Linked DNA regions of Homo sapiens: regions 2, 3, 4, 5 and 6 are each reported to be linked to region 1. Evidence: microRNA targets listed by miRTarBase, many of them from high-throughput screens and not tested one by one. Region 1 holds a microRNA gene; each other region holds the end of a gene's coding sequence.

Evidence for each region. Region 1 holds the annotated microRNA hsa-miR-4720-5p (CCUGGCAUAUUUGGUAUAACUU, at 2,387-2,408, shown strand). A microRNA usually pairs through its seed, bases 2 to 8, with sites in the 3' UTR of a target mRNA and lowers its output. Matches are read on the target gene's strand: a 7mer-m8 pairs with bases 2 to 8, a 7mer-A1 pairs with bases 2 to 7 and ends in A, and an 8mer does both.
Region 2: the mRNA of ABL1 is a reported target of hsa-miR-4720-5p. Seed matches in the 3' UTR shown: 7mer-m8 at 4,479-4,485.
Region 3: the mRNA of AASDHPPT is a reported target of hsa-miR-4720-5p. Seed matches in the 3' UTR shown: 7mer-A1 at 2,184-2,190 and 7mer-m8 at 2,424-2,430.
Region 4: miRTarBase lists DPF2 as a target of hsa-miR-4720-5p. Seed matches in the 3' UTR shown: 7mer-m8 at 1,757-1,763 and 8mer at 3,112-3,119.
Region 5: miRTarBase lists RER1 as a target of hsa-miR-4720-5p. Seed matches in the 3' UTR shown: 7mer-m8 at 1,211-1,217.
Region 6: miRTarBase lists ZBTB41 as a target of hsa-miR-4720-5p. Seed matches in the 3' UTR shown: 7mer-m8 at 3,876-3,882.

What each region holds. Positions count from the first base shown.
Region 1 is chr16:81,382,635-81,387,707 of GRCh38, forward strand. It overlaps MIR4720 (microRNA 4720), which reads left to right and starts at 2,384; the gene lies at 2,384-2,459. It overlaps GAN (gigaxonin), which reads left to right. Exons shown (of 11, transcript NM_022041.4): 11 at 1-5,073. RefSeq lists a silencer at 4,240-4,434.
Region 2 is chr9:130,885,367-130,890,435 of GRCh38, reverse strand. It overlaps ABL1 (ABL proto-oncogene 1, non-receptor tyrosine kinase), which reads right to left. Exons shown (of 11, transcript NM_005157.6): 11 at 2,761-5,069. The coding sequence ends at 4,753. Among named protein-coding and RNA genes, the nearest start is that of QRFP, 8.9 kb to the left of the region's middle. RefSeq lists a silencer at 1,620-1,914.
Region 3 is chr11:106,095,922-106,100,994 of GRCh38, forward strand. AASDHPPT (aminoadipate-semialdehyde dehydrogenase-phosphopantetheinyl transferase) reads left to right here. Exons shown (of 6, transcript NM_015423.3): 6 at 822-2,774. The coding sequence ends at 986. Among named protein-coding and RNA genes, the nearest start is that of AASDHPPT, 21 kb to the left of the region's middle.
Region 4 is chr11:65,351,080-65,356,152 of GRCh38, forward strand. DPF2 (double PHD fingers 2) reads left to right here. Exons shown (of 11, transcript NM_006268.5): 11 at 604-3,183. The coding sequence ends at 680. It overlaps TIGD3 (tigger transposable element derived 3), which reads left to right and starts at 3,672. Exons shown (of 2, transcript NM_145719.3): 1 at 3,672-3,878; 2 at 4,714-5,073. The coding sequence starts at 4,730. RefSeq lists silencers at 3,400-3,459, 3,550-3,869, 3,890-3,949, 3,960-4,129, 4,190-4,379.
Region 5 is chr1:2,402,410-2,407,482 of GRCh38, forward strand. It overlaps RER1 (retention in endoplasmic reticulum sorting receptor 1), which reads left to right. Exons shown (of 7, transcript NM_007033.5): 7 at 626-3,027. The coding sequence ends at 715. It overlaps PEX10 (peroxisomal biogenesis factor 10), which reads right to left. Exons shown (of 6, transcript NM_002617.4): 4 at 4,311-4,486; 5 at 4,075-4,210; 6 at 1,565-3,425. The coding sequence ends at 3,357. Among named protein-coding and RNA genes, the nearest start is that of PEX10, 7.6 kb to the right of the region's middle.
Region 6 is chr1:197,154,691-197,159,763 of GRCh38, reverse strand. ZBTB41 (zinc finger and BTB domain containing 41) reads left to right here. Exons shown (of 11, transcript NM_194314.3): 11 at 1-5,073. The coding sequence ends at 405. Among named protein-coding and RNA genes, the nearest start is that of ASPM, 11 kb to the right of the region's middle.

The DNA.
Region 1 (5,073 bases):
AAATTACAGAAATTCATAGTATAAGGATGAGAAGGGGCCCATTTGCCCATATTTGATAACACAGACTTGGATTGAGTGTCTGTCATGCCTGCTGGCAGTTAAGTCTCAGTGGTATTGACTGCTAGGCATTTTCTATATTTTTTGCAAGTTAGCTGGTAAAACTTGGTAAAGTTTTGTGTTTTTCAGAAGGAACCCTATTATTATTTCCATTTTAAACATATTTCAATATTGTCTCATTGTAATAGTTCCATTTATGTGACATCTGAGGAATTAAATCATACTTCCAGATGGTTTGGTCTAATGTATACAGTTTAGGAAAGTTTATTCTTTTTTATTTTATTTTATTTTTTTAAATTTCTTTTAGAAACTGGGTTTTGCTCTGTTGCCCAGGCTGATCTTAAACTCCTGGCCTCAGATGTGGAGACCCAGCTGGGACTACAGGCATGAGCCACCACGCTCCGTAGAAAGTTTGTTCTTTTTCAGTTCTGTCATTGAAATTCTCTAAGTGATTGGATTTTTAAACCCCTTCCCCTTTTCATGAAATTAAACATCAAATAAATAAAACTACATTATATAATTATTTAGTCAGAAATGACTGTTGCCCTCTCTTTTTTTTTTTTTTTTTTTTTTTTTTTTGAGACGGAGTCTCGCTCTGTCGCCTAGGCTGGAGTGCAGTGGTGCGATCTCGGCTCACTGCAATCTCCGCCTCCTGGGTTCAAGCAATCATCCTGCCTCAGCCTCCCCAGTACCTGGGATTACAGGTGCTTATTACCACACTCGGCGAATTTTTTGTGTTTTTAGTAGAGACGGGGTTTCACCATGTTAGCCAGCATGGTCTCGATCTCCTAAACTTCGTGATCCGCCCGCCTCAGCCTCCCAAAGTGCTGGATTACAGGTGTGAGCCACCTCGCCTGCCCTCTTTTTTTTTTTTTATTTTGAGATTAAAACTAATTCTTTTAAAGTCACTACTCAGCTGAAATTTGGCCTGATTATAAATGTTGATAATAATTTCTTCCTGGCTCAACAAAGTTGTTGAGCTTCCTTCTGTGCACACATTGAAAGAAAACCAGAAATTGTACAGTCGTGATATGAATTAGAGAAGGAACAGGTGGAAAAGGATGGCAACACACAGAGTCCGGGGGACACACGGCCTTAAGATGAAGTGAACGAGTAGACACTGAATAGGATCCACGTAAATGAACGGCCATTTCAAATCATTCACATCCCAAACGGAGGTTCATCTGTCTTCTGGTTGGTGAATTATATTTATTAGGATCTTATTTTTAGCATTTCATTACAAGTAATAGGTTTGGGTACCTTATTTTTATTGTTTTTACTCATCAGTTATGAATAAGGCATACCTTAGAAACTTGGGTTAAATTTTTTCAAGTTATACCAGTCAACTTGGTTTAAATACAACTGTACTAACTTGCTTTATCATGTTTCCTGTTTAATTGGATGAGAATTACATGCACTTATTCAGTTGTTCTTTGTGTTTATAGGAAAAACTCTGTTCTCAGCTACCTCATTATGTAGTATTGTGCTTGATCCCCTGCCAATTGAGAAGAATTCAACACATTCTGTTCTTTAACAAAAGCTTGGAAGCAGGCAGTCAGAGGCCTTGAGGAATACAATTCTCTAAGGCCTGTTTTCCATTTTACTACTTAAAAAAAAAAAAAAAAGAAAAGAAAAAAAAGCACTTACAACCAGGAGGAATAATAATTCTCCTAGAGTTGCTGCAAACTGATTACTTGAAACTCAACTTGAACTTTAAAGAGTCTTTAAAAGGCTGTTTTCATAATGCAGAAAAGTAGTCTATTTAAACGCCACTGCTGTGTAAAACAGGGGGCTCGATTTCCATTCTTGTTAGCATCAGACAAGAAAATGTGTCTATCTGTCATCTGACCCAGTATTTGGGATTTGGGTGCTTGAGGATACTATTTTTTTCATTTCTTATAAGGTGCTATTGTTTCCCAGAAATCTTTAATTTTGATGAAAATCTACTCATTGCTAAGATCCTCCTCACTTAAAGTGTTTCCTCAGTGCAGAGTTGAGGTTGGCAGAACTATATAGAGTTGGATGATACTGAAAATCATGAATGATGTGATTTGTTCCATGTATCTGTGGAACATCCCTCACCTTCCTCCGGTATGCGCCTTCTGCACTCCACACGTGGTCGCCTCCATCCTCCCTAGTGTCTGTCAGCTTGCCTGGTCACCAAGTCAGGAGGAAGAAGATGAGGAGGCTCACCAGTTGTAGGCAAGACTCTTCCTCTCGGGAGATCTTGTAATAATGGCCCAGTTTCAGGGCACAGTTGTACACATTCTACTTAAATGGAGGAGTTCAGTGATGCCGTGGCCAAAAGAGTTATGCCCATTTCTAAAAGCCTGGCATATTTGGTATAACTTAAGCACCAGGTAAAATCTGGTGCTTAAGTTGTACCAAGTATAGCCAAGTTTAACTGTCGTTGTGTATTAATAAGATTTAATTTTTATGCTTGTGCTTTTCAGAGTAAAGGGCTTGCTTTCAATAGTAGAATGACAAAGCTTCTCCTCCAATGACAATCTGTTAGCACCCTGTTGACTTAGCTCAGGACATGAGACTGACTTAGCTCAGGACATGAGACATTTCCTGGAAGTGATTTCCATGAGAACAAAGGCTTATTCCTTTAACTTAAACCCCAAACTTTGTTATTTTAATTATTTTCAGGCAATCATCTTTATATACTTTCCTTACAAACCCAGTGGTTGAGAGCATAGGCCTTGGTGGCAGGTGCATCTGGGCTTGGGGGCTTCTGCCACACTTACTACTCTGTGACTTGGGAAGCTCTTAAGGCTCCCAAGGCTCCGTTTCTTATGTGGAAGAAGAATAGCAGGAGGACTCACCTCTGCGGGTTGTTGTGAGGATTAACTGGGTGATGACTGTAAGCAGCTGGGAGAGTGCCTTGTGTGCAGTGACCACTGTTGCTGCCACCATGATTATGTCACCTCTCAACATGGGGTGGTGGGAGGCCCTGTGGATGAGGCCAAGGCTGCCTGCACTGAGTGTCCCAGGCCTTATAGCTTTCCACATTCTCACGTCTGCTGCCACATGATATACAAGTAAATGTATTAGAAGTTGGTGTTCATAAAATACTTTTTTTTTTTTTTTTTTTTGAGATGGAGTCTCGCTCCGTCACCCAGGCTGGAGTGCAGTGGCGCCATCTCCCAGGCTCAAGGGATCCTCCTGCCTCGGCCTGCCAAGTAGCTGGGACTACAAGTGCACACCAGTATGCCCAGCTAATTTTTTGTATTTTTAGAACAGGTGTGGTTTCACCATATTGCCCAGGCTGGTCTCGAGCTCCTGAGCTCAGGCAATCCGCCTGCCTCAACCTCCCAAAGTGCTGGGATTACAGGTGTGAGCATCCAGCCAGAAAATGATTTGCTTTCTAGACCCATATCACCTCTCTCCATCTACATCTCTAGTATTTAAATTCAACACAATTCTAGATAGCTGAAACAGCCCAAAATATGTGTTTAGAATACTTAGAGTTTGTTATAAATAACCCTCTGTTTAGAATTTGCCCAGTGAAATTCTCTAATAATACTTAAAACTCTTTACTAAAGTTGAATTTTCCTTTTTTTTCATTGAAATAGCAAAGGTAGTAATCTGTATTGGTCAAAGAAACGAGATAATTCCTAGATCTCTGTTTTAGACCAGTAGACCTAACTGTGCTTTCTTAACTTGGATGTTACATGAAACTTAAAAACAAACAAATATGTGTTACAAGTACTTGTGTGTACGTGCATGTGTGTTTGTGCATGTGTCTGTGTGTGTGGAACTTTTGTACCTTTGCATAAAGAAGGTTATTTAACAAAGTGGTACAAACAGTGAACTACTTAATCCTTCTATGGTATCATACACTTCTTTTCCTGGTTAGGTTATGAGACTGGCAGAGGTAGGAGTATATAATGTGCTCAGCTTGTCTTGATTTCAATAAGACATTTGATAAAGTCATTCTTGATCTCTGAATGTGAAAAGGAAGTAGAACAGCCGGGCGCGGTGGCTCACGCCTGTAATCCCAGGACTTTGGGAGGCCAAGGCGGGCAGATCACCTGAGGTCGGCAGTTTGAGACCAGCCTGACCAACGTGGAGAAACCCCGTCTCTATTAAAAATACAAAATTAGCCGGGCATGGTGGCACATGTCTGTAATCCCAGCTACTCGGGAGGCTGAGGCAGGAGAATCTCTTGAACCCAGGAGGCGGAGGTTGCGGTGAGCCGAGATGGTGCCGTTGCACTCCAGCCGGGCAACAAGGGCTAAACTCCATCTCAAAAGAAAAGAAAGAAAGGGAAGTAGAAGTAGGATTTAACAAAGGACCGAGAAGTCGGCTGAATAGCCAGGTTCAGACAGTGTTGGCAAGAACGGATCTTTGGCAAGATCACTTAAGGTGAGCTACTCTAGCAGCATCCTGTTTGACATTTGTATCCATAACTTGAATAAAAATATAGAAGGCAAAGAAGAGTGCTGGGCAAGATGTGTTGGGTGTTAGATCTGCAATACTCTTCATAGTGTAATGGCTAAATGTAAAGTCTTACGTCTCGGTTCAAGAAAGCACGTTGCTATATGAAATTTCAGAAAAAAGTTTTGTTGCGGGGGGTGGGATATTGATCATTTGAACATATGCCAGTTGTTTCTCCTGCCCTAGGGGAGGTTGGCACGGCAACCTTCCCACTCCGTAGGTGGGTAGCCTTGCTGATGGGGCACGTCGTCACCAAGGGACCTGATTGTTGTCATGGTTTTGTCTTGTCCTCCTCCCTGGTGAAAGTCTACTGCAGTTTTATTCTCAGCTCTGGAAGGAGAGGGAACGAGCCTCTGCCTGTGTGTCCTGACCCCTCTTGCCTTGTTTTTGATCTGCTCAGGCCGGGTGCAGTGGCTCACGCCTGTAATCCCAGCACTTTGGGAGGCAAAGGCAGGTGGATCACTTGAGGTCAGGAGTTCAAGACTAGCCTGGCCAACATGGTGAAACCCCGTCTCTACTAAAAATACAAAAATTAGCCGAGTGTGTTGGTGGGCCCCTGTAATCCCAGCTACT
Region 2 (5,069 bases), not on the chromosome of region 1:
CCCTGATTACAGCAGTGATATCAACTGGAGTGTGGGGGCAGGGGAGCAAGACATTAGGTGACCCCCAGGGACGAGGGCAGTGCTGACAGGGACACTGTGGTCAGCCTGGTCTCACCTAATGTCTTCTCGTACGAGGACGTTTAGAGTTTGCTTCCCCAGGGCACTCCGTTTAGAAAGGCCTCCTGAGATGATCTCTGCGGCCCAAGGAGCTGGGCTGGCTGTAATACTTGGCTGCTTCTCTTCCACTGTGGAGGGAGAAATCCGGCCCTGGGCACAGTTCTCTCCTGGTCCTGTTGGGGCTGTCTGCACTGTCTACTGATTAGACTGCCGTGGTAGGCACCAGCTGGTACATGTTGTGTGACCTTGGCCGAGCTGCTTGACATCTCTGAGCCTCTCAGCTTCCTTACCTGTCAGAGGAGGACAGTAACAAAAACTCTCTCATTAAAAAAAGTGGTGGGCTTGGCCGGGTGCGATGGCTCATGCCTGTAATCCTAGCACTTTGGGAGGCTGAGGTGGGTGGATCTCGAGGTCAGGAGATAGAGACCATCCTGGCTAATATGGTGAAACCCCGTCTCTACTAAAAATACAAAAAATTAGCCGGGAGTGGTGTCGGGCACCTGTAGTCCCAGCTACTTGGGAGGCTGAGGCAGGAGAATGGTATGAACCTGGGAGGCGGAGCTTGCAGTGAGCCGAGATGGCACCACTGCACTACAGACTGGGCGACAGTGTGAGACTCGTCTTAAAAAAAAAAAAAAAAAAAAAGTGGTGGGCCGGGCGCACTGGCTCATGCCTGTAATCCAAGCACTTTGGGAGTCCAAGGTGGGCGGATCATGAGGTCAAGAGATCGAGACCATCCTGACCAACATGGTGAAACTCCGTCCCTACTAAAAATACAAAAATTAGCCGGGTCTGGTGGTGCGCACCTCTAGTCCCAGCTACTCGGGAGGCTGAGGCAGGAGAATCGCTTGAACCCAGGAGGCAGAGGTTGCAGTGAGCGGAGATTGTGCCATTGCACTCCAGCCTGGGAGACAAGAGCGAAACTCTGTCTCAAAAAGAAAAAAGAAAAAAAAATTTTTTTTGAGACAGGGTCTCACTCTGGAGCTGGAATCCAGTGGCACGATCATAGCTTGCTGCAACCTCCACCTCCTGGGCTCAAGCAATCCTCCCACCTCAGCTTCCTGAGTAGCTGGACTACAGGTGCCACCATACCCAGCTTATTTTTGTATTTTTTGTGAGATGGGGTCTATGTTGCCCAGGCTGGTCTTGAACTCCCGGCCTCAAGCAATCCACCCACCTCAGCCTCCCAAAGTGTTGGGATTACAGGCATGAGCCACCTTGCCTGGCCTTTTAAGAAAATGTCCAATACCTTAGGCTGGTGTTTTGTAAATAATAACAATGGACCTCGAAGGCAGGACTTGAAATGACCTGGAAACTGCTGGGTGTGTGCACACAGGTGCATTTTTCTGGGGCTGGGATCCAGTTTTCATTAGGTTCTCAGGAGGTTTTGTGACCTAGAAAAGGTTAAGAAACCACTGTCTTGGAATGGCTAGACTAAACTAAGCTCTATAAGCTCAGGTGACACCCATGAAAGATCCCCATTTGGGAGATGAGAGGCGTCTTCCTCCACACTGGCCCAGTGTGACCAATTGGCCTCACGTGCAGGAGCCGACTCTGGACACGCAGTCTCAGCGCTTAGCGCTGGGAGGGCGGGGTGACCGTCCACATCTGACACGAGGAAGCGGCCACCAGCTGTGGCTGTCACCAGAGTTGTCCTATGTCTTCGTTCAGACCTGGGAGAAGCAGCCATTCAAAGGACAAGAGAAGCCCCAGGCTTGGTGGATCTGGTGGCCAGCTATGGTTCAACCGGCAAGGAAATTGGGGGCCCCAGCCTGGTTTTGTCCCTGTGAAATGAGAGGGGGAGAATCTTGTGCCTGGCACTGCTCGCAGTGGGCTCCACCAGCCCCGGCCCGGCTGGAGTTCCACCTGTCACCCACCGCACAGCAGTCTCGCTCCAGGTCTCTCGAGTGGAGCTTCACCAAGCTGTGATCTTCATATGCTCTGCTGAGCAGGATGTGCACCCCTGACAAACCTGCTGGCCTGATCAGTATCATTATCAGAGGGTGCTACTCACTTCCCAACCGCCCCTTTCCAAGCTGTCAGCTCGGTGGGGACTGAGCTGGGAAAGGGCGGTGGGGCTCAGTCTGGGATGGCCTTCCCAGGCCCTGAAGGCCCAGCACACCTCACACCTCCGCTCCTCCTCATCCACACAAAGACCTAAGACACCTGGCTCAAGGAACATGAGTGAGTAAGGGCACCTGGGGGCTTAGGGCGGAAAGGTGGAGAGAGAACAGGCGCACGTGGGGAGGGATTTGCCCTCAGCCAGCAAGAAGCACGGGACGTGACCTCCTCACCCCACTTCCACGTCGCTGCGACAGCCTGATACCGCCAGTCAGATGTGGCTTGTATGGTGGCACAGCCCACTCCCAGTGATGCCGGTGGGGCCAGGCTGCCAGCAGGTAAGCGCCAAGGGTACAGAAAGGGTCCGAGCATAGCAGGGCAAGTGCCTGAAAGATGGCTGTGGGCACCCAGGCCGCAGAGGCCCTGGGCAGCTGGGGGCAACCTGCCACCGTTCTGCTCTGTAAGACCTGATGCCGGGCCCCAGCCCCGTCGGGAAACCAGAACCCACTACATCCCGGCCCCGCCACCGCACAGGCTCAGAACAACAGGGCAGGATCACAGGCCGAAGCAATCTGCCAAGAATTCTAATGTAAACACTGATTTATTTAAAAAATACTACAGAGGACAGATTTGGATTCAAAAAAAACCACAGAGAATCATATACAGAAACAAAATGCACTGGACCCCGAGAAGCAGAGGGGGAGCCACCACAGGCCCCCGAGGGGGCAGGGCAGGACGCTATGCACACGCCACTTAGAAAAGAGCGTCTATAAAAGATGCATACCAAGAGATACGTGTAAAATATAGTGGCACATCACGTTAACAAAAGGAAGGGACCAGTACCTCATGGAGACAGGCAGTCGGGGGACCTGGGTGGGCGCTTTGCTCTGTCTTCAAGGCCGCTGTCGGTGACTAGTGCCTCCCTCCGGCTGCGTCACAGCCGTCGGGGGCAAAGAGGTGATGTGCTGTAAGAACCGCATAAAACGATCCAGAGGAAACCATTTCTATCAGAAAAATAAAGTACAAGTTTAGGTGATGAGCGTAAAGCTAGGGCCTGTGCGAGGCTGCTGGCACGAGGCGGTATGAAGGGGTGGGAAGGTGGCTTCTCCCGGCGTGAAGCCTCAGGGGCGGCCACCTGCCCACTGCTCTCGGAGTTAGCTGCTCTGTCAAGGTCCAGGAGACCCCGGGTCCCTGCCCAGAGTCACAGCCCCCGTATCTGGGCTCCGGCCTGGGGCAGCCTCGGGGAGAAGATGGCAGGCGTGCTCTGTGAAATACGTGAGGCTTTCAGGGGCTCCGTTTGTGGTTTTCCTAACCCTCCCTGATGACCCCCACAGAACATGAGGCTATGTCACTCACGGTAATTAAATAAGACATTCGCCCAGTTCAAGAGTGCAGCCAGGACCAGGACTGGCCAGGCCCTTTCCTCCCACCTGTGCGCAGGTGCCCAGTGGCAGCTCTATTCTCTCTCAGGGCGGCTACACAGAGGCAGGGCTTTGAAATGCTTCAAGAACTCAGAAAAGTGAAGGCTGTCTTGTTCCAAAGGAAAGGGCCTTGTAAGAATCTACTTTGTCTTAGAGGAGTGGGGGAGGGGAAGGGCCCTTTCAGGGCACCCAGATGTGTGAAAGGACGGTTCACTCTGGGCCCTTGCAGACCTGCCTGGGCCCAGTCTGGGGCTATTTGGCACCAGCTGTTCACCCCACTAGCCACTGCCTCCCTTGTCCCCTGCCTCCATTCTGCTGGGGGAGGGATGTCGGCAGTGACAGTGACCTGCCACCCTTGAGACTCAAGCTTTCTTGCCAGGATTCACAGTGCACGTCACAAGAGAGCAAGAGCTGGGCTCTGGGGATGTGGACAGATGGAAAGGACATGCCCCATGCCTCGATCCTTTTCAGCTCCCACCTGCCCAGGACCCAAAGGCTGGTTGGCTTTAGCACCCTGTTTTCCACCCAAATCAAGAGCTGTCCTGCACGTGAGGAAATGGCGAGTGCACCCCACCCCGGGCAGCAGCAGAGGGCAGAGTGACCAGCCGTGTGCATGCCCGTGCATGCCCTTCCCGAAATGCGGTTCTTGAAACATGTCTTCAGCACACGACGGGCAAGGCCAGGGAGTGCAGGCAGAGGGCCTGACACACAAGGCCTCAGTTCAGGCTTCCATTCTTGGAGAAGTGGAAGAAGGAGGCCCAGCCGGGGGAGGAGGGGCTCCAGAGAGAAAAAAATGAAAAAGACAGTCCACATCAGCCGTTCCCACCTGGCCTGGAGAGCTCAGTCTGGGGCACTAGGTGGGAGCGGGGCTGGCGGGTCCTGGCATGCCGACTGCAGTCCACGGAGCAGGAACTCCACAGATAAAATTCGAGGACAGAGACGGAGCGGGGAGGAGGAAGGTGCGGGAGGGCAGGCGGTGCAAACGTAGGTAGTAGAGCTGGACTCCACAGGGCCCTCAGCTCTGCCTGGCGCAGAGCTCCTGGGCCAAGGTGCTGACTCACTAGTCCCTTGTCAGCCACTGTCACGGGTATGGGCGAGCCCGCATGTGCTGCAGGCAGCTCCGACGGGCCTGACACCTGACCCCTGACTGCTGCTACCTCTGCACTATGTCACTGATTTCCTTCACCGAACTGAGGAGCTTGCTGAAGTCCTGAGTGGCCGCTGGACCACTGCCTGCTGTCGCCGGGCAGATCTGAAGCTCCCGGAGATTATTCTCCAGTTTGTTGATGGCCTCTCGGAAGGCAAACTTGTTCCTCATTTGCTGGATGGAATCCACATAGCTCACGCAGAACGTGTAGAGGTTTTTGCCGGCCTCCAGCACTGCGCTGTGGCTGGCCATCTGCTCGGAGTTCCTAGAGATGGCGAGGCACAGCGCCTCGGTGCTGTCCAGGACCACGCCCTTGGTGATGG
Region 3 (5,073 bases), not on the chromosome of region 1:
TTTCCCTGGACAGAGCCTGTTTAGGCAACAGTGGCATGTTGGGAAGACTAGAGTACAATTCACAAAATTGGGTTCTAGGCCCACATCTACCATTTAACCTATGTTTTGAGCTTGGACAAATTGTTTGAATTGTTTGCTCTTCCTGAGCCTCAGATTCCCCATCCATAAAATTAAGATAACCGTATCACAACATAGCTATGAGACCAGTCATATAAGTACTGGACCTTGACTTGTTAAAGCGCTATACAAAACCCAAGTACTATTTATACTAGATGTGTAGAATATTAAAGAGGGTCTGCACTGGGTTCAATTGTGAACAAGGGCTCTATCTCAGAGAGTAAGATACAGTTTAAATTTAATATTGAATAAATAATTTCCTAAAGAAGTATACATCTCTGTATAGTTATGGCAGTTTTATCAGACCCACCTTTTAGAGTAGTATTTCACAAAAGTTCACTTTCTCACTCACCTCTATCAAAATAACCTGACTGCTCGTTAAAATTACAGATTTTGATATCCCTTCTAACTGATATGTAGTAAATCACACTTTTTGGATGTGGGGCCCAGTAAATCTACATGTAAAATACCACAGGTTTTTGTTATATAAAAAAGTTCAAGAATCAGGTTTTCTATTTCATTTTTTTTTGATTTGTTGTATTGGCAACACTAATATAAGAAATACAAACAATGTTCTAGGAATCCTATGTTGTCATTTAATACTACTGAAATGTAAGTTGGTCTTACTTATTTTCATGATTATGAAATTGATCATAAGATTAACATGCAATATAACAATAAGGTAATCTGCTTTTGTCTTTTAGGTTCCATCTCAGGATGATTCCAAACCAACCCAGAGGCAATTTACTATTCTCAACTTTAATGATTTAATGTCATCTGCCGTTCCCATGACACCTGAAGATCCTTCATTTTGGGACTGTTTTTGCTTCACAGAAGAAATTCCAATACGAAATGGTACAAAGTCATGATGATTCCCTGAGTAACAAAGGGAAATGAAAACTGTTTGTGATCTTCCGTATTCACTGAAAAATAAATGCTTGTTTAGTATCAAATTTTATTTCACGAAAGTTTTTTTAAAGAACAGAAACTTTTCCAATTAAAAAAAAAAAGCAGACTTCTGGTTCAAGATAGCTCACTGGAATACATGTTTACCTCTTTCTTTCCTAAATTGCATTGAATTGATAGGAAGGATGGCGGAATCTTAAAGTGATACATGCTAACTGTAGAAAAAAATAGAAAATGCACATAAGCAAAAGGAAACATTTAAATGCTATCTTTCAAAGATAACTACTCTTAAAACCTTGAGTATCTTTTCAGACCTTTTTCTTGGCAAATGAATCCATATTGACATATTTGATTTTTTTAAAAACATGGAAACGTACTGTTTTGTAAATTCTTTTTAACTGCACATCTACTGTTCATAAATATACCTCTGTAACATAACTTTTTGTGGTTCTAATGTACTCTGTTGTATAGCTAATACAAGTTAGGATGCTTTTGGCCAGAGGTAACAGTGTCCAAATATAATTGGCCTAAGTAACCTAGGAAATTGTTTGACATAACACAGGGTTCAGGGGTGTCATTAAAGACACACTTTTTTTGCCTTGACCTCAGTTGGTTTGTTTTGCCTTAGGCTATTCCACCTCTCGATCACAAGAGCTGCTGCTATAACTTCCAGTTTTACATCTTTGTAAAATTGTATCTCAAAGGCAGAAAAGGCCATTTCGTCTCTCATTTGTTTTATCCATGAGGAAGATTTTTAACAAAAGCCTCCAGAAGATTTCCCCTCAGTTTCCATTGACTTAGATCAGGTTACAGAGAAAGGCAATGTCTGACATTTTTGGTCTCTGTTAGAAGTAGACTCTGTTGAAAAGAAAGAAGCTAAGCTAGGTGTGAAGAATGGAATTGGAAGCCCACTGCCTTCCCATAAGAAAGGTTTACCATAATTTACTCACTTTTTTCTGTGTTAGACATTTTGATTATCTGCAGTTTATTACTACAAGCAGTGGCAGAGTGAATGTCCTTGTACATTTTGAGTTACATGCTTAATTATGTCCTTGAGAAAGTTTCTAAAAGTGGAATGATTGGTTTGACTGGTTCATAGGGCTTTAATTATACAATTTACCCCTCTAATTAGTACTATATGTATGTGACTTCCCTCCCCCTGCCAGAATACTCCTTGGTCAATTGTAGGTATTCTTTTTGGTTTAATTTTTGCCAATGTAATTAAAAAATGGTATGTCATTTTTAAAATTTGTATTTCTTTCATTACAAATAAGATTGTTATGTCAGTATTGTTATTGGCTTTTCGTATTCCTCTTAACGTGAACCGTCTGTTCATTGTTTTTACCTGTTTTCGTTTTAGCAAGTAGTACTTAATTTAAAGTGTGAACTTAATATATAAGATGCCAGGACCATCATATTGATGACAAAAATCTATTATGTGGTTGTAGTGCATGTCTTGGAGTTAAACTCTTAAGTATCAAGAAGTAAAATAATTTCATTGTTTCTGTTACTAACATTAAAAGTGTGCAAATTGTATAAAATTAGGTACTTCGATTAGTAAAAGAAAAAAATTTGAATGTTTTTTTTTTTTATTTTATTAAGCATGCCCAGTTATGCCAAGCATAGTAAATAAAGGTCAAGTAGCATTTATAATAGAGGAAGTATTGTTATCCCTAGCATGAGTGTAATGGTGATATGAAAAACTTTGTCTTGTCATTATAATAATAAAAAAATGAACATTTATTATGGAATTTCTATGAGCCTGACACTGTGTTGGATTTGTGTTTTTTAGTTTTTAGTTTTTCTATTACTTTTAATCAAAGTTTCATGTGTACACAGCTTTAAAAAATTGGATAGATCTGTAAGATTTTTTTCCTAAGGAAAAAGGCCATTACTCTGACTTCTTCCATTTCCTGTCTCCAGGGCAAGCCCTTTCAACTCTTTTAGATGTTATTTTTTTTGTTATTTATTACCATGTCTCCAAATGACATGCTTATATTGCTTTTACTTGATTTTTTAATTTTAGGCATTGTTTCTTTGATTTTCAAAATAAAGCTTCCCTCTTCTGCTTCCCAGCATTACACATTCCCTTTTTATCCCCTTTTCTCCTCCCAACATAACAATTCAATGTTTACATTGTTGACTGTGATTACACTAAGGATATGTGTACATTATTGAGATTATGTAACTGCTGTATACAGCTGAGTGATGTATTATCCTTACCATATACTAATTTCTTATTTCCTTTAGTTAATTGACTGCATAGATTTCTACCATATGTATGAATATCTTCTCTATATGTTCAAACGTAACAATGATTCCATCAGTTTCTTTCATCTTTTAAAAAATCACTCCTAGAGCAATCTGCTTTGTCCAAGTTGGACTTTGTGCCTTCTATGGCTGGTGTACAGCTGTAATCCTGGGATCTCCTTTACCATGATCCTGGGGATTGTCTCTCCTGTGTTGGATTCCCTGTTCCCCATTTGCTATCTCTCACATCTTAGATTTACTCCATTCATGTGAAATAGCTTTTTGAGAACAAAGTGGGCATAGGAGTTACATTTTTTGAGACTTCTAAGAGGAAGGGACAGTCCTATGCAGAGTGGTATAGGGATCTAGTTGTTTCTTAAACCCATTATCCTATCCCCCTCCACATGAAGCTCTTTGTTAACGCTGTATTCATATCCACTTTTTCCAAGTATTTGATGGCTGCATTTTGCTGAGTTTTGTGCTGGGCTGGCACATGCTGCTTCATACTCATGTCTGCTGGGTCCAGTTATAACATACTGACCAATGTATGGCTTTATTGGTCTCTGTTAATGTGTTTCCTGCATAGGAACTCTCATAAATTTATTTTTAAAATGAATCTGTATATTTGTGTCTCTTCCATTTCAGACTCAGAAATTGAAAAGATTTGGATAAATTTTCAGTTAAATTTTTCACTATCAAAATTAGAATTGTTACCTATTCAGAATCTGAAACTCAAAAACCAGTTAGGTTTGAGTAACTCAACAGCTCCTCACTAGTGGAACTATTACCATCTGAACTTGAGGACCAAATAGATTTATAAATACACATATGCAAATATATCTTTGGTCAAAAATATTCCTGAAAACAACTCCAAGTATCAGTACGTTTAAAGAGGATATGAAGAGAGCTAATGAATGATGGATTTCATTTTTATGGGGGAAATAAATATACCTTCATAGTATTTGTGAATTTGGGATTGGCAAAGGTCTTTGGATGTATTCCCAGTTTATCAGTTAATGTCAGGTAACTGCTGTATATGTCTTATGGTATTTATATTAGAAGCTATTTTGCATCTTAAGCACTCACATATCAGGCTATTTAATTCTTATAACTCTATGGAGTTGTATTGATGGGGAAAGTAAGTTACTGAGTTCTTGAACAACTTACTAAAGGTTATATATTCATTGAATACTGAAGCTTGTTATTTGATCAGAGTTAGGCTCAGATCTTTAGATCCAAAACCTCAGTCAACCACTATACTTAGTGGTGTGCTGGTAAATATTTAACAACCAGCAATCCTGGGGCAGGGAAGAAGAGACCTTTATATGTAGCTTTTGCTTATTCCATGAAATAATGACGTGTAACCAACACCTAGGTTTAGCACATGTTGGCATTTTGTCATATTCGCTTCAGATCTTTTTTCCTCTCATTTCAGGAATAAAACAAATGCAGCTAAAGACTTCCTACCCCCTAGTTACCACCCCTTCATCTTTCCCTTTCCAGGGATAATCTCCAATATTTGTAATTTTATGCTGTTATGCGTTTACTATTTGTATGTATAGTGTTTTGTGATTAAATCTTACATTTCCCTATTAGGATTGAAACATTAGGATGGAATCTCTTTGTGTGCTACTTAGAAGTAACAACAGTGTCAGAATAATTGAGCTCACTTAAGCCCACACTTCTCAAGGAGTATACATACTTAGGAGTAGGCACTGGTGTGTGGTAGTAACTCATCAAAAGATAGCAATTGGTCATCTAGAGGCATTCGTTTTATCTGAAATTTTGGAAAGAATCTTT
Region 4 (5,073 bases), not on the chromosome of region 1:
CTTTGCCAACCGTATTGACCTTTGGGTTAGAAAGGACTTACATTTTTGAGTCACCTGTTTCTGAAGAGCTGATAAAAGCCCTAGAATAATGTCCAAATGCGCATAGGTATAATTTTGCTTATCATTTCAAGGCATTAAGGACTAATTTTATTCAAAAAAAATTAGAAGAATTCAGCCATAGTCAATATTAATAAACAAGGAATGACCCAATTGTTTTTCATATAAGGGACAATTATTTTGTGTTTTTTAGTGAAACTACACAAGTCTTAAAACTGAGGTGCTTGACAAACTTCTGTCTTCCCAGGCCCTCTTCCTACTCCCAAAACTTCTGATTTAATAGGGCCAAGAGGGCCTGGGCATCAGTATTCTGAAGTCCTCTAGATGATTATTTCTTTCATCTCCATAGAGGATGATATTTCATAATATTTGAAGACTTAGAGGTTTATCCCAGCTCAGGAAACCATGGAACTTTCCTGCTGCAGAGCATCCCTCGTCCTACCTGTAGCTGATCCTGCTATAGAGATGGGGTATCAAGAGCAGAGGAATTGCAAGCAGGTGGGGATTGTGTGGGACCCATCCTGACCCCATTTTGCCTCTCTGCAGGAAGTTGGAGCTGCCACCTGTGTCTGGACCTGTTGAAAGAGAAAGCTTCCATCTACCAGAACCAGAACTCCTCTTGATGTGGCCACCCACCTGCTCCCCGACATATCTAAGGCTGTTTCTCTCCTCCACTTCATATTTCATACCCATCTTTCCCTTCTTCCTCCTCTCCTTCACAAATCCAGAGAACCTTGGGGTGGTTGTGCCAGCCTGCCTTTGGCAGCTGCAAGCTGAGGTGGCAGCTCTGACCACCTCTGGCCCCAGGCCCTCAGGGAGAAAGGAGCAACACACTGCCCCTAGGCGTGCGTGTGGCCCAGTTTCTCTCTGCTCTCCATTAAGTGCATTCACTCTGCTTGCCTTGGGCCCAGCCCCTGGTGATCACAGGGTTCAAACAGTGTCCTCCTAGAAAGAGTGGGAGAGCAGCTCACTTCTCTGTGTTCTGCCTCCCCTCTGGTCTCCAGAGTTTTCCTGTCCTCTAGAGGCAAGCCAGGCCAGGGAGCTGGGAGCGAGCAAGCTGAGGCCACGTCCACAAGGAGCTTTTCATGCCCCTGTGCCGCATAGCCTCACCTCTTTCCTCCAGAGTGGCTCTCTGCGGCCCTGTGTTCCTGCTACAGAGTGTTCTTTTCTGGAGTCAGGATGTTCTCGGTCACCCTCCTGGTTCTGCCCTGTCCCATTCCACCCCACCCCAGGGGGAACAGTAGCTTCACCTTGTTATTCCCATTGCTCTCCTGGCTCACTCTTACGGTCGGTCTCCAGTGACTGAAGCATTCCCCACCCTTGGAATTTCTCATCTTCTGCCTCCCTTCCTACTCCTTTTGGTTTTGTGGGGAGAGGGGAAGGATCAGGGGGCCAGGCCAGCAGCTCGGGGGCCACAAGGAGATGGATAATGTGCCTGTTTTTTAACACAACAAAAAAGCCTACCTCCAAAATCCCCTTTTTGTTCTTCCTGGACCTGGGCATTCAGCCTCCTGCTCTTAACTGAATTGGGAGCCTCTGCCACCTGCCCCGTGTATCCTGGCTCTCAGCTCATGGGGAAGCCACATAGACATCCCTTTCTTCCCTTGCACGCTCGCTAGCAGCTGGTAAGGTCTTCACACCCTGATTCCTCAAGTTTTCTGCTTAGTGGCACTGACATTAAGTAGTGGGGGGACAGTCCATGCCAGGACACCCTGGAGTAGCCTTCCCCCTTGGCCGTGGGCAGGCCCTAACTCACTGTCGCTTTGGAGTTGAGGTGTCTTTTTTTTTTCTTTCTTTAGTTCCTGTATTCTAAACATTAGTAAAAATAAATGTTTTTACACAGAGCCCTCTGCTGGATGGTTTATCTCCTGCCTTTCTCCATTAAGAAGGCCATTTCATCCTAAGATTTCCATGATGGTGGTTTTTTTTTTTAATGTTTTGAAATACAGCTTTTTTCCCCCCAAATTAAAATTTTTTTGTGGAACCCCAATATGTAAAGCGAATATAAAATTGGTTATTTTGTTTTGTTACATAAATTCAAGTTTATAACAATTCTTTGTTATAAAGAACAATGAAGCTGTTTTGATCAATACAAAATTTGGGTTAAAATCAACTTTAACATCTATTTTTATGTTTCAGTTGATTTGGAGAATTCTCCTAGTCTTGGATACATAGATGGAAGTGATGACAGGTTTATAACAGTTGACCTTGCAATCTCAGACATTTAAAACAGGACCAGAAGTTTATATAAATATAATTAATAAGCAAACTAATGACATCACCATGGGACACACACAAAAGTTCTTGCAGGAGCAGGGTCTGTGTGGCTTCAGTTGCCTGCAGCGCTCCCAGGCCAGAGCAAGTGCTCTAGGATCTGAACTGCCCGCAGTGCAGCCCTGCAGCCTTTCCCAGGGCACGTTGATGTGCACACAGTTTCCCTGAAGGCAAAGTGAACATGTGGAGAGCTTACGTGGCAGCGCGTATGTCTTCAGTGTGTGTTTTAGAAGTCCAACTGTTGTTTTTATGTTTTTAAAGGAAAGATTTGAATCAAGCAGTTATGGGCCCCCTGAAGTATCCTTTTTTCTAGAACATTCTGAAAGTCATCCTTGCCTATGGGAAGCCTAGGCCGGCCTGCACTGTTATGTTCAATAAATAAGCAGGGTGCTCTGGGCTGGGGATTGTGTGAGGAGCAGAGCGCAGCCCGTCCTCATGCTTTTCCACTGAAGTAGGCCAGGCAGAGAGGGAGTACAGCAATGGATGCGCTTTGGCAGCTGAGTAGTCCGAGAGCCAGAAAAGAAATGTGGAAAATAAGAACGCTGTAGCAGGCCTAGGTGAGGAAATTTAGGAAGGGTTTGCGGGAGGTAGGATTTGAGATGGGTCTTGGAGAGTTGGACAGTGTCAGCCGGTAGGACGGGGGTGCGGACGGAAGCCTGTGAGGAAGGCAGAGGATGCGGAGCTGTGAGCGGAGGGAGCAGCGAGGCTGGAGAGCAGCTGGGCTGCGGGTCAAGACGTCTGCGTTTAATTCGGGACTGAAGGTTAGCAGGGAAGGGAACGATGCCAGATCTTGAGTTTAAGAACTTGAATCTTGTAAAGTACCAAATCTAATAAAATACTCGTCCTAAATCATTACTGGCCCAAGCATGCAGTGTTTCCGTGGCCGACAGACTCGAGCCAGCGCTGTCCATGGTAACCAGCTTTTGTGTGGCTTAAAGCTTGCATCCATTTTCTCCTTTCATCGTTTTCCCAAAACAATTCCGTGAGGGCTGTTAGCCCTGCTTGGTAGACGAAGAAGCCGATGCGGTCTAGGGTCACGGCCAGGGAGGCTTTGGGACGCCAAGTCAGCTCGGCGGTCACCACACCACCTACAGGGCTCGTCGGGCCCTCGGGGTCGGCGGCTGCTGGAGGCGCCCAGGGGAGTCCTGCTGGTTCCTGGCTCCGCCTCCCGCCCCTCCGCGCTAGAAGCCCCGCCCCCAGAGGGGCTCGACGAACCGCCACTTCCGCAACGTCCAATGAAACTTAGCCGGGGGAGGGACGGGGCGCCACTGAGGACCAATCTGCTTGGGCCGGGGCGGGGCTGCGGCGGGTGGGTGCAGAGGGGCCGCACCGCGGACTTCGCAGCCGGGAGAGAGCCCGGCGCGGGCGGCGCGCACGGGACTCTGCTGTGCGCGCGCCCGCCCGCCCGCCGTCCGCGCAGGCCCTCGGTCCGCTCTGCCCTCGGGGTCGTGGCGCCCATCCCTCCCCTGTTCTGCTGTCGCCGCCCGGACAGGGGCTCGGGAGCCGGGCTGGGGGCAGGGGCTGGAGCCGCGGGACCAGCGCCTGAGGTGGGTGCGGAGCGGGAGGCCGGGCGGGCGGGCGCCTGGGGCCGCCCCGCCGACATACTCCGGGTCGAGGGGGAGTGACCGGCCAGGGCACGGAGTCCGGCTGCCGGCCTGCCTGGGTCCGGGCGTTCGTTCCCGCGCCCTGGGACCCTCCCAGGCCACCACCCTCCCCGCGGGGACACCCCGCCCCTCCGCTGCCCGCAGCCTCCTCAGGCCTCCCGCCCTTTGTCGCTCGTGCACCTGCGCCCTCGGCCCTGCCCTCTCGCTCCCCTCAGGACTGACCGTCGCCTAGCCTCCCTCTCAGGACCCGGCACCAAATTAGCCTCGCTCCTTCAGACACCCTCTGTCCCCTTTGTCGTCTGTACACCTGTCACCTCAACTCTGTGTGCATCCACCCACCTCCCACCCCCCAGCGGCGTCATCTGAATCCAGCCCAAGCCGCCTCCCACTCCCTCCCGGGGGCTCCTCCCCCGCAGCCCCGTAGCCCCACACCTGCCCCCTCGGCCCCAGTCCCAGGCCCTCCCCCGTCCGTATGCCTTTGTTATCTCTGCAGCTGTCCCCTGCACTTTTCATCCTTCTTCCCGAGTGAGGCCAGACCCCAGCCCAGACTCCCCTGTCCTTCTGAGTGGAGAGACGCCCCCTCCCCAGCTCTGCCCTGGCATCCTGGGGACGGGGCCAGCCGGCTTCCACTCGGCCTAGCCACTTCCTCTTTCAGCGGGTCCAGTCTCACCCGGTGCCTGCGCAAGTCCTCATCTAATCTCTTTTCCCTCCTGCGCTCCTTTCCTAGCTCTTCCGGCCTCAGATTACTCTACCCGCTCAATCTTTCCTCCCCGCACAGGTGCCCCGGAGAGGCCATGGAGCTGAGCAGCAAGAAGAAGCTTCACGCCCTGTCCCTGGCCGAGAAGATCCAGGTGCTGGAACTCCTGGATGAGTCCAAGATGTCCCAGTCGGAGGTGGCCCGGCGCTTCCAGGTTTCCCAGCCCCAGATCTCGCGCATCTGCAAGAATAAGGAGAAGCTGCTGGCGGACTGGTGCAGCGGCACAGCCAACCGAGAGCGCAAGCGCAAGCGGGAGTCCAAGTACAGCGGGATCGACGAGGCTCTGCTCTGCTGGTACCACATTGCCCGGGCCAAGGCCTGGGACGTGACGGGGCCCATGCTGCTCCACAAAGCCAAGGAGCTGGCCGATATCATGGGCCA
Region 5 (5,073 bases), not on the chromosome of region 1:
CTGTGCTGGGCTGTGGTGGGTGGTGGCAGAGTCTGCCTGGTGTGAATGTGGAGCTAAGTGGCACCGTCTTGTGTGTGACGAGGACACTGCTCCGTTCCCAGCACGGCCGGCTAACTAAACGGGGAGCGCAGCTGTGGGAGCGGGCGGGCTCTTGGTGGAAACTTTGTGGAAGCCGGGTGGGAGAGCCCCGGCGAGTGCAGTGTCCCGGTGGCTCCTCTTAGGGTGCCCAGTGCCCCGCGCCAGCCTGCCCGAGGAGGAGGGTGTTAGGGGGAAGTTAGCCGAGACTGCGGACTGTGCCCTTGACGGTGTGGCCTTCGTGCTGCGGGCCTCACTCTGTGCCCGGGGTGTTGGCTGCAGAGAGGGCCCTGGGCCACCTCACATCCCCCTTGCCCTTCCTCCACGGGAGGCTCACGAAGCACTGGGATTGATGGGGTTTCAAACCTAGGCCTCGTGGGCTGTGGAAGGTCTTGCTGTGTTGATGTGGGCGCAGGAAGCCACTGGGGCTCCGATTCCACTTGTCTGATGTATAGAAAAGATGGGGGACCTTTGGCCGCTCAGATTTGGGGACAGTGTGACTGACTGGAGAGCGGTTGTGCAGTAACTGAGTCTGTGTTTCTCTCCCCAGCACATGATTAAGTACCGGTACATCCCGTTCACACATGGGAAGAGAAGGTACAGAGGCAAGGAGGATGCCGGCAAGGCCTTCGCCAGCTAGAAGCGGGACTGAGGCTGCCTCACGTGTTGCAAGAACAGTTTTGAGCCATTGTTAACAATGCCTTTTTTCTTCACATAAAGTAGTTGATTACGAGGGAGTCAAATTTTCTTTTTAAAAAGGAGCTTCAATGATTTGTAACTGAAATATCAGGTTCTAGAAGAAACTGGCGCTTAAACCAAATCGCATGGATTTCTTTTTCAGTGACGTTCAAGTGTTTCTCACGGATGGAATTCTAGTCAGCTGCAGGCGGGAAGCCAGGCGGGTGGAGCCCATGGGAGCAAGGGCGAGTGGCCGGTCCCCGCTGTGCCAGGTGGGCAGGCAGGAGCAAGGCCTGCGAGGGAGGAACGGGCCGCTCCCCGCCAGCCGCCTTCCCCAGCAGCCGCAGGTGGTGCCAGCCACTCCACAGAGCCCGAGGGATGATCTAGCCTGATTCCTGCGTGTCCGAAAGAACTTAACGTTTTAAAGGTGATTGTCAAGTAACTGTGTGGGGTTCTAATGCCAGTTTCCTAATTCCATCTCACTGGAGATGTTTAAAGTTGGCCTCTATCCTAATGACTCAAAACTTGGTTCTTAACTACCATGATTGCTTTTGAGGGCCCGGAATTATAAATATATATTATATTTTAATTGTTTGAGATTATTTTGACACATTTCTTTGATACGTAGAGTGTTTTGTTTTTAATTTAAATCTGTCCTCATGCAACCCTCCATGAGGGGCAGCGAAGCTGGCAGGGAGCAGACTGGCTTTGTAGGTTCAGCACTCGGCCCCCCACTGCGGGAGAGGCGGAACCCACTTGCATGTCAGCGTTTTTGATTCGAGAAAAGAAATACTCTCAACGTTTTACCAAGTGATTTTACCTCCACCTTTACTAAAGTCTTTACCTAAAACATGGCAGTCGCTGGACACAGGAAAGCCCACCTTTTGTTTGGCCTTTTCGAAAGGTGACCCATATTGCACAGCAGAACATCACAGCTGTGGTCCCAGATGAGACACTGACATGCGAGTGAAGGCCTCTCCTCCTGGGCCCCGGGCTGCGCAGGCTCCTCACTCTGGGCGGTGTTTCCTGTCTCAGAATTGACACGGTGAATGCTTAGTGTCTGGATTTTCTTGTACCAGTGTTTACATATCTGACATCGAGCTCCTCTAAGAGGCCACGTTCAAGCTTGTGTGTCCCTGACCCAAGATAGCCAGTGCTGCTCCCAGGTGGTACTTCTGGTACCGTGTTGAGACACTTGGGATTCTCAGACTGTGGACAGGAGTGTTTGTCATTTTTCATACTGTTTTCTTAATAAGCGCTCAGGCCTAAGGTGTGACAGGAAGTCGCACGCGCTTGGCCAGAGCACAGTGAAGCAAAGGACTGGGTGCTGATGGATGGAGCCACGGCGGCATCTGCCCACCCGGCCGCAGCCCCCAGTGCCTCTCCTGGTGGTCCTCCCAGTCTAGAGGGTCACGGCCCCCCCGCCCTCCTCCGTCTCTGGCAAGCTGACCTTGACTAACCCAGGAATACAGGGTCATCCTCATTCCTAAGTAAGTCAAACAGCAAGACATGGTTTGCGCGGGTCTTTGCCGGAAGCCGGTCCTGCTGGCCAGGTGTTTTACGTCAGCAGGGAAATGTGGCACACGCCCTCGAGGCATTTTAACACTGCGCTTCAGGAAATCTCAAGTTCCATCTTGTGTTAGTAACGTACCCACATTTTGCTGGAGTTAGTTTATTAAAGATGCCTACGGTGAACTCTCTGGCGCAGGTTAAATGCAGTTTTGAAAACCTGGAAACATCAAATGGAGGCGGGAAATAGGCTGGGGCCGAGCTGAGGGGCTGAACACAGCAGTGACCGTGGGTCAGCAGGTCGCCTGCCCAGCAGGCCCCCCAGGAGAGGGCTCGGGCGCCCCTGGCAGCCCCCATACCCCCAGGACCTGGCTCGTGAGTGCGTCTGGGTCAGGAAGAGACCTCTCTGTGCGTCTCAGGCTGAGATGCAGATTTCTGTTTTCTAAAACTGGAAGCGACCTTGACGTGTATTGAAGGTGTGTGTGCCAAATGCTTCCGACGGAGGTGCTGGCCTTGGTTGGTTTCTCTCTGCCCCGTGTGGTCATCAAGTCCTGGGGGATGTGCTCTGCCCAGCCGCCCTCGGGGAGAGCAGCGCCGCCTCCCATGGGGCCGTGGGGCTGCTGTTCTCACTGCACTGGCTGAAGCAACCCGCCAGCCTCCGTGCCCCACCCCACCCAGCACGCACTCATTCAGTCCATTGCCTTAACACAAGCCTGATGGGGCTGTTTTCTCACAATATAAACGAATAAAGTGTCTTCTGGCCTACTTCTGAATTACTTCTCAACTGTATGGTTTGGGGAAGGGAGGGAAACCTAAAATCCCGTCCAAATAAGTGAAATTCCTGAAGAAGTGGCTGAGTCCTACCAGGTTGGGGTTAGGGAAATGTTCTGGGTTCAGGCGCCCCTCCCAGGGCTGAGAAAGCGCAGCCAGGGACAGCTTTCTGTTCTCTCCCAGGGTGGCTAGGTTAGTATCTTACATGACAAAAAACTGAGAGTGTTCTAACTTCTGTGCAAGCAAGGTTAATCCTGAGACTAAATCTTGGCGTTCAGACTCCCGTAGAGGTCATCTGTGTCCAGGCCCACCCGGGCGCCGGCTCAGCGGTAGTGCCGAAGGTAGATGAGCTTCTGGGGAGGGAACTTCTCCCGGCAGAGGGGACACTCCGCCTGCGGAGAGGAGAAAGGGGGTCACAGCAGCTGGGGCCACTGGGCCATGCCCATCCCCATCGGCATTTCTTTTCCTGTCCACATTCTCTGCACATGACACACAACATAAATGTTGTATTTCCTTCAACTAATGACCAAGAAAGCCAGCCTTTTTTCAGAAGGCCGAGTCCCAGTGGGGGCTGGGGCGGGGCTGGGGGCGTAGGGCTCAGGGTGTGGGGCTCGGCCGGGAGGTTCCCTCCTGCTCCCGCAGCTGACACAGCCCACGAAGCCCAGCTCCTGGGAAAGCGTGCGCTCTCACCCTGCCGGCATCTTCGGTGGGTGTGAGTCAGTGTGCTAGGGTTTTCAAGTGTGGTGAGGACCCCGGGAGGAAGGGTGTGCTGGGATGCGTGGTGCAAGCGTGGGGCCTTTCAGGGCTGGCCACTACCCCAACCTGCATTCGGCAAAGCCTCAATACACGTGAATTTGGAACTTTAACCCCCTCAACGAACCCACATCTGACCTACCTGGGAGCCTTTAAAAAGATGCCCACCTCTGTACCCTCAAAACTGGAGGGTGCTCAGAGCCAGACTCCCCACTTCTGCTGCAGCCAGGTGCATCTTGCCGGCACAGCCGCTGACCACCCCAGGACGGCAGCAGGCTCCCACCTCACCTTGCTGCTGCACCACGCGGTGATGCACTCCCAGCAGAACAGGTGGCCGCAGGGCGTGGCTGTTGGGTGCCTGCGCTCCTCCAGGCACAGGGTGCACAGGGGGTTTCTGGAAACGGCTCTCTCCTCCAAGGAGGCCCTGGGGAAGGTGGGGCAGAGCGTCAAGGTGGGTGCACCTTACAGGTCCTTGTGAAGTGCCCAGGACACCCCCAGCCCCCATGTGTGGCCCCCGCACGCACCTGCGGTGAGACAGGCCGCGGTGCAGCCTCCACTCCTTCCTGGCTCGCTGCCGCTGCCTGAAACCGTACAGCTGCAGCCCCATGGACAGCACCAGGTGCAGCAGTGAGATGACCCCCAGCAGCCTGTAGCTAACACGGGCCCTCAGGTCCTCTCCGGGCAGGCTGCGGACACGGAGCTGTAAGGCAGATGGCGCCACACTCATCAGGACCCTGAGGGGATCTGGCCTCAGCGCCTGCTGGGAGGGTCACACGTTCAGTTGGCACAGAGCACGTTAGAACCAGGCCTCTCACTGGCATGGGGAGTGCCCGGCAGAAACGATCAAGCCAGGGGGCAGGTTCAGGGAGTCTGAGGTGCCTGCTTCGTAGCCTAGCATGACGGAGAGGCCTGAGCTCCAGACCAGCCTTGGCATTACCAGTGCAGAAAGAGTCTTAGCTATGAGGCTGGCAGAGCAGGTGAGGATGTGGGGATGTCCAGGGACCACCTCTCAGAAAAGGAGGCGGGGAGCGGAAATGTGGGGCTGCAGACGCTGCCCACCAGCTACCCTGCTACAGGGACCGAAGCCCCAGTGTAACAAGGCACGTGGCCCCAGGGACACTGCTGCCACCCTCCTGCTGGTGACACAGGTAGCTTCTGACCGTGCCACTGAAGGACAGCTGGCTGCCCTCGGCTTCCCGTGTCACTTTCCACTGGCTGGGAAATGGAGACAGCCAGACAGCCTCGGCCCAGGGCCGGGAACCACATACAGAGGTGGCAGGTCACACC
Region 6 (5,073 bases), not on the chromosome of region 1:
ATCTTTCAAACAGAAACAAAACAATATATGGACCAGCCCAAAGTTTATCAGTCGGAAGCCAAGACGATGTTACAGAATGTATCTGCTGAAGTATGTGTTCCAGTAACTCTGGTTCCAGTTCAGATGCCTGACACTCCGAGTGACCTAGTGCGTCATACTACCACACTCCCACCATCTTCTCATGAGATTCTGTCACCACAGCCACAGTCAACTGATTATCCACGAGCAGCGGATTTAGCTTTTCTGGAAAAATATACTCTTACTCCTCAACCTGCAAATATAGTTCACCCAGTTCGACCTGAACAAATGCTAGATCCTAGAGAACAATCTTATCTTGGAACATTACTGGGCCTTGATAGCACTACTGGTGTTCAAAATATTTCTACGAATGAGCATCATTCATGAGTAAATCTAAACATTCCACAGATTTTTGGATGGTTATATGCTAATGGTAGAGATGATAGCTTTTAAATTTGTGGGGCTGCTATTTTCTTGTTTTCTCTAGTTTCTCAAGTCCTCAGAACAGTTTCAAATCAAGAAAACTATGTGTCTCTGTTTACTGAACATGAATATTTGGACAAAATTTCTGGCATAATATTTGAAGTGCACATTTTTGTGATTTTTAAAGATTATTTAGTGCTAACTTTTAATGGTTTCTTAAATTTTTTGCAATTATTAGCTGCTGATATTATGGAAGTATTTTTTTTAATCATCAGTGGAAATTTTTATTCTTCTTTAGTCTCATTCCTCTCCTTCTTCTTCCTAGCCCTTCTTACAAACAAGTTTGAGGACCATGTAGCCTTTAAGAAGGAATTAAGAGTACACTGATAATTGCAACTGTTTCTTATCCTAAGATTCAATATTACGTTATACAAATTTTTAAAATTGAAATTAGGAATTTGAATTTACAAGAATGCCTTGGATATTTCTGTGTTGTCTTTCCATTCATACATAATTTTAGGTTATCATTATCCTTTGGACTTTTGATATACTCAAAGCCAGAAAGCTTAACTAATGTAAGATTAGCTATTATTTGTAGGACTGAAATAATAATCCAGATAATTGGTTTTTGCCTATACTTCAATTGTTATGAATAAGAAAGGCAAACATAGGTCTGGGCATTAAATTATACAAACTGAAAATGTGTTACAAGAAAAATATGAGAGTTTTAACTAGATGTTTTTCAAGGTAAGTTCACCTTTTGTACTTTACTATTTATTTCAGAAATGTTGACAATACAACATAGCATATGTCTTCATCTCACTAAGAAAAGAGCAGTTGTAACTCAATGAAATTTAATTAAACATGCTACTTTTGATTTCATTTACTTGGCTGATAGAAACTCTGGGAAACAGAACCTAGATATTTTGTGTTCAATTGTTAGAAAAGGTGCCAAACAGATTATGAAATTTGTGCCTAATTTAACTTAACATTGTTTAATTAAATGGAACCACTACTTATATACAGATTTACATGCAATCCAGATCTTTAATTTTGCCTTCACAAAAGCCTAATGTCTGTAATTAACCTTTAATTTTTATTTCTGTATGAGACAAAAGTTGAGGACTTGGTGAAAGGAAATAGCAGTTACAGCAAAACCTCAGTGATTACAATTGAGGAAAAAGTCAAAATTATAAAATACCTTTAAAGACATGCACTTTCCATATTTTCAAGTCAATTTTAACTAAAAACTAAGATAATGTTTCCTAGTAGAGTTGCTTGAAGATTAGACTAGACAGGGTTGATTTATTATTAGCATGTCATTTGTACATAAACTAGTAGAAAATAGCAGTTTTAAAAGTTTTCTATTTCAGTTTTGTTTACACTCCTAATTGCTTTAAGCACTTTTTTTGTGTGTGTAAACTGTAAAGTCTAGCCCAGCCCTTGTGAAAAAAAAAATCACAAATAAAACAGTGAAGTTTTAATGAATAAAGTTTAATCAATTAGTAATGGCGGAAACTGTCGCTGAAGCACTTAAGAAATAAAGGTACTTTACAGCAACATTCGCCATACTAGCGGAGGTAAAACAAAAGAAATATTGAAAACTGAGGCAGTTAACCAAAGTAGCTCATATAAATAATAAAACCAATCTGAGTTTAGCCTCATTTGTCAAGGTTTGGTTGTAATTGTCTTAAGACTAGTGGACATACTTACTATGTTCTCCTTTTTAAAGTATTCTTATTTCTTTGTGTGGAAATGTTATATCTGGGGTACTTACATGATTGAGGTTGACTATATGAGGTACTGTTAGTCTGTTAGTCTTTCAAATTGACTTTTAAAAATACATATCTTTATGATTTTCATCATAAAGACTGGCAATATTATAACTAAAAATCTTACTATAATGAAAGAAATCATACATAAAAATGTAGCCTGCCTTACATATAAGCTAATGTAGAAAAGTTTAGACTTATAAAAAGGCAGATAGTATATATATATTTATATACATGTATGTATATGGTATATTATACATTTGGTGGCAGAAAAAGAAGATACTGCATTTTCACATTGAAAAGAATACTTTGATTTTTGAAGGTATTTACTTTAGGGTTCTTTTAATAATAATGTCCGTCCTAATGCTTTAAATATATGATTTAATTGTAGGAATTGGTTTACACAGAACTTTTTTGGAATACATCTCTTAGTAAAGTGAAATATAATAATATAATTGTATTTAGTTACTATTGTAGATAACTTAAACTTGAGTAGTGATTTACTGTTTTATAAAATGCTTTCATATATGTTATCTCATTTGAACCTCATAACCAGCCCTGAAATAGTAAAAACAAGCTATATTCCCACTTTATAAAGAATTTGAGGTTAAGATAAAAGGACTCATTTAAGCTCACATGGTCAGTAGGTGGCAGAGCTACTAGTAGGGAAAGAAGAAAGCTAGCATTAATGAATGCTTACTATGTGCCAGGTACTACATCCTGTCATTTAATCTTAACCTAGTCTGGGAGATGCGTAATATAATTCTGGTGAAGTAATAGTTTCAGTGGATGATTGAAAACAACAACAACAAAAACAAAATGAAACTAATCTGCTGCCTCTAATTTCCAAAAATGTAAGAAATTTTACAATTGTGAAAACCTCATGGATTTGGGCAAACTGAATGTATATAGGCTTTTGACAAAAGTTGGCACAAAAAGTATAAAAGGAGGCCTATTCTTTTCAGTTGACCTTTTGTAATATTTGATTTAGAGTATTTTGGACAAATGCTCTATAACTCTAATCCATTTATTTTGTAACTGTACTTAAAATTTTGAATCTTGCAACTAAGTTTAGCCTCATTCAGAATTTTTTTATTTTGTGAGCATAATTTATTGTTTTAAATTAATTTTTTAGCAGATAGCAGTTAGCACTTAATCTGTAAATTGAATAATTTATCAAGTGCAGGAATGTGTTAATCTAATGGGTTTTGACTTAAATGCACCAAAGATTTTTAGTAGGTATTAAATAGTTTAAAAGACTTTAAATTCTTTCTTGCTTGAATAACTATTTGTCCAAAGAAGCACAGTTGAAGTCCTAGAATAATGGATTTTTTTAAAAAAAAAAAGTTGTTAGTTTGAATACTGAGATTGATTATTGTGTTTATATGTATAAAAATAGGAGCAAAAGAAAATACTCTGGGAATAGTCATACTGACAAACCAATTATAAGTGAGAATACTGTTTTCCTTAGTTTAATTAATACAATGTTATGTTTTTTAGAGAACACTACTAAATGCTAAATAAGCCTATTTTTTACACTACACTATCAAAATAATTTTTGCCTTCGAATTTTTTTAAGTCAAGTTGAGGTTATTTTTGTAAGAAACCCAACCTATTTTTTTTGCAGCCTAAAATCCCATTTAAGGTTAGGGGTTGGTCCTTATGCCAGCAAGATTTAACCAACTGTAAAGATAGTAGTCTTTGCATACATTTAAGTAATTAAGGCATTTATTGCTGGGAGAATAGGAGTAGCAAAAATATGGTTTTAAATTGGTGCTTTATTAGGTGACTTCCTTTTAGGCGATGGCAGGTCATGAAATAGGTACACTAATAATTTTCTATCAACCTTAAAAAGTGTCAAAGCATCTTTGTAGGGTGACTCTAAACTGCTAATTAAGGGTTAATAAGTAATTATCATTGGTTGCTTTTCAATATAATTGCAAACAAATTAAAAACACAGTTAAACTAATATGTTTATAAGCTTGAGTTTTCTTCCTACCATATCACTCTCATATATCAGTGATGAAATGTCAGATTTTGAGCAGTAGCTCTTTGACAGTGTCCTTTTATACCCAGTCTTTTCTGCATTGAATGCTTTGTGCCTTTTCGATGTGTTGTAGTTGCTTAGAGTTGATTCTGCTGGCTAGATTGTACTGATTAATAGATTTTTATTTTTATTTTTTTTTGGTTATGGGTGTTATGATTGTGTTGCCTGCTGGTTGGGCAACTTTTTTTTTTTAGGTTGCTTTATGTTTATATAGGCAAATTGGCACTAAGTGTTAGTGTGAATATTTGTTTTTATGATTTATATATCATTTTAAAAATCTCTGTTGTGGCCTTTATAGTTACTGTGAAGCCACTCTTGGGCCTGTCTCTATATGCTTATTAGAGGAATCTGACAAGTAAAATAAAATGAGTAGTGTGTCTGCATCTGTGTCTCTGTTTCTCTGTCTTTTAAATAACCAGTAACCATAACTACACAGCCCTGCACTGAATGACCTTATTTCAGTTTGCCTAAAACTGAACAAGAGGTGATGGTTTGAGATGAGTTTCTCATTAGGAGCAGCAACATCCCAACCAATATATAATGAGTTGATCAACTCAGGAAAAATTAGGACTTTAAAGAAGGTTGTATTTGGATATTCTAAGATTCAGTGCCAAATTTAAAATGCCTAGAAATGTATTCTACAAGTAGCATTTCTAAAACTTTAAGTAGTGTTATAGTAAATGCTACTTGCTGTTAGAGTGAATAATGGATAATGTGAGAATAATTTTCTAAACGACTTCTAGAAACTAGACAGTTCTTCCTTATATCCTACCCTTTTCCACATTTCTCTAATGTGGGGTTTTTTGTTTGTTT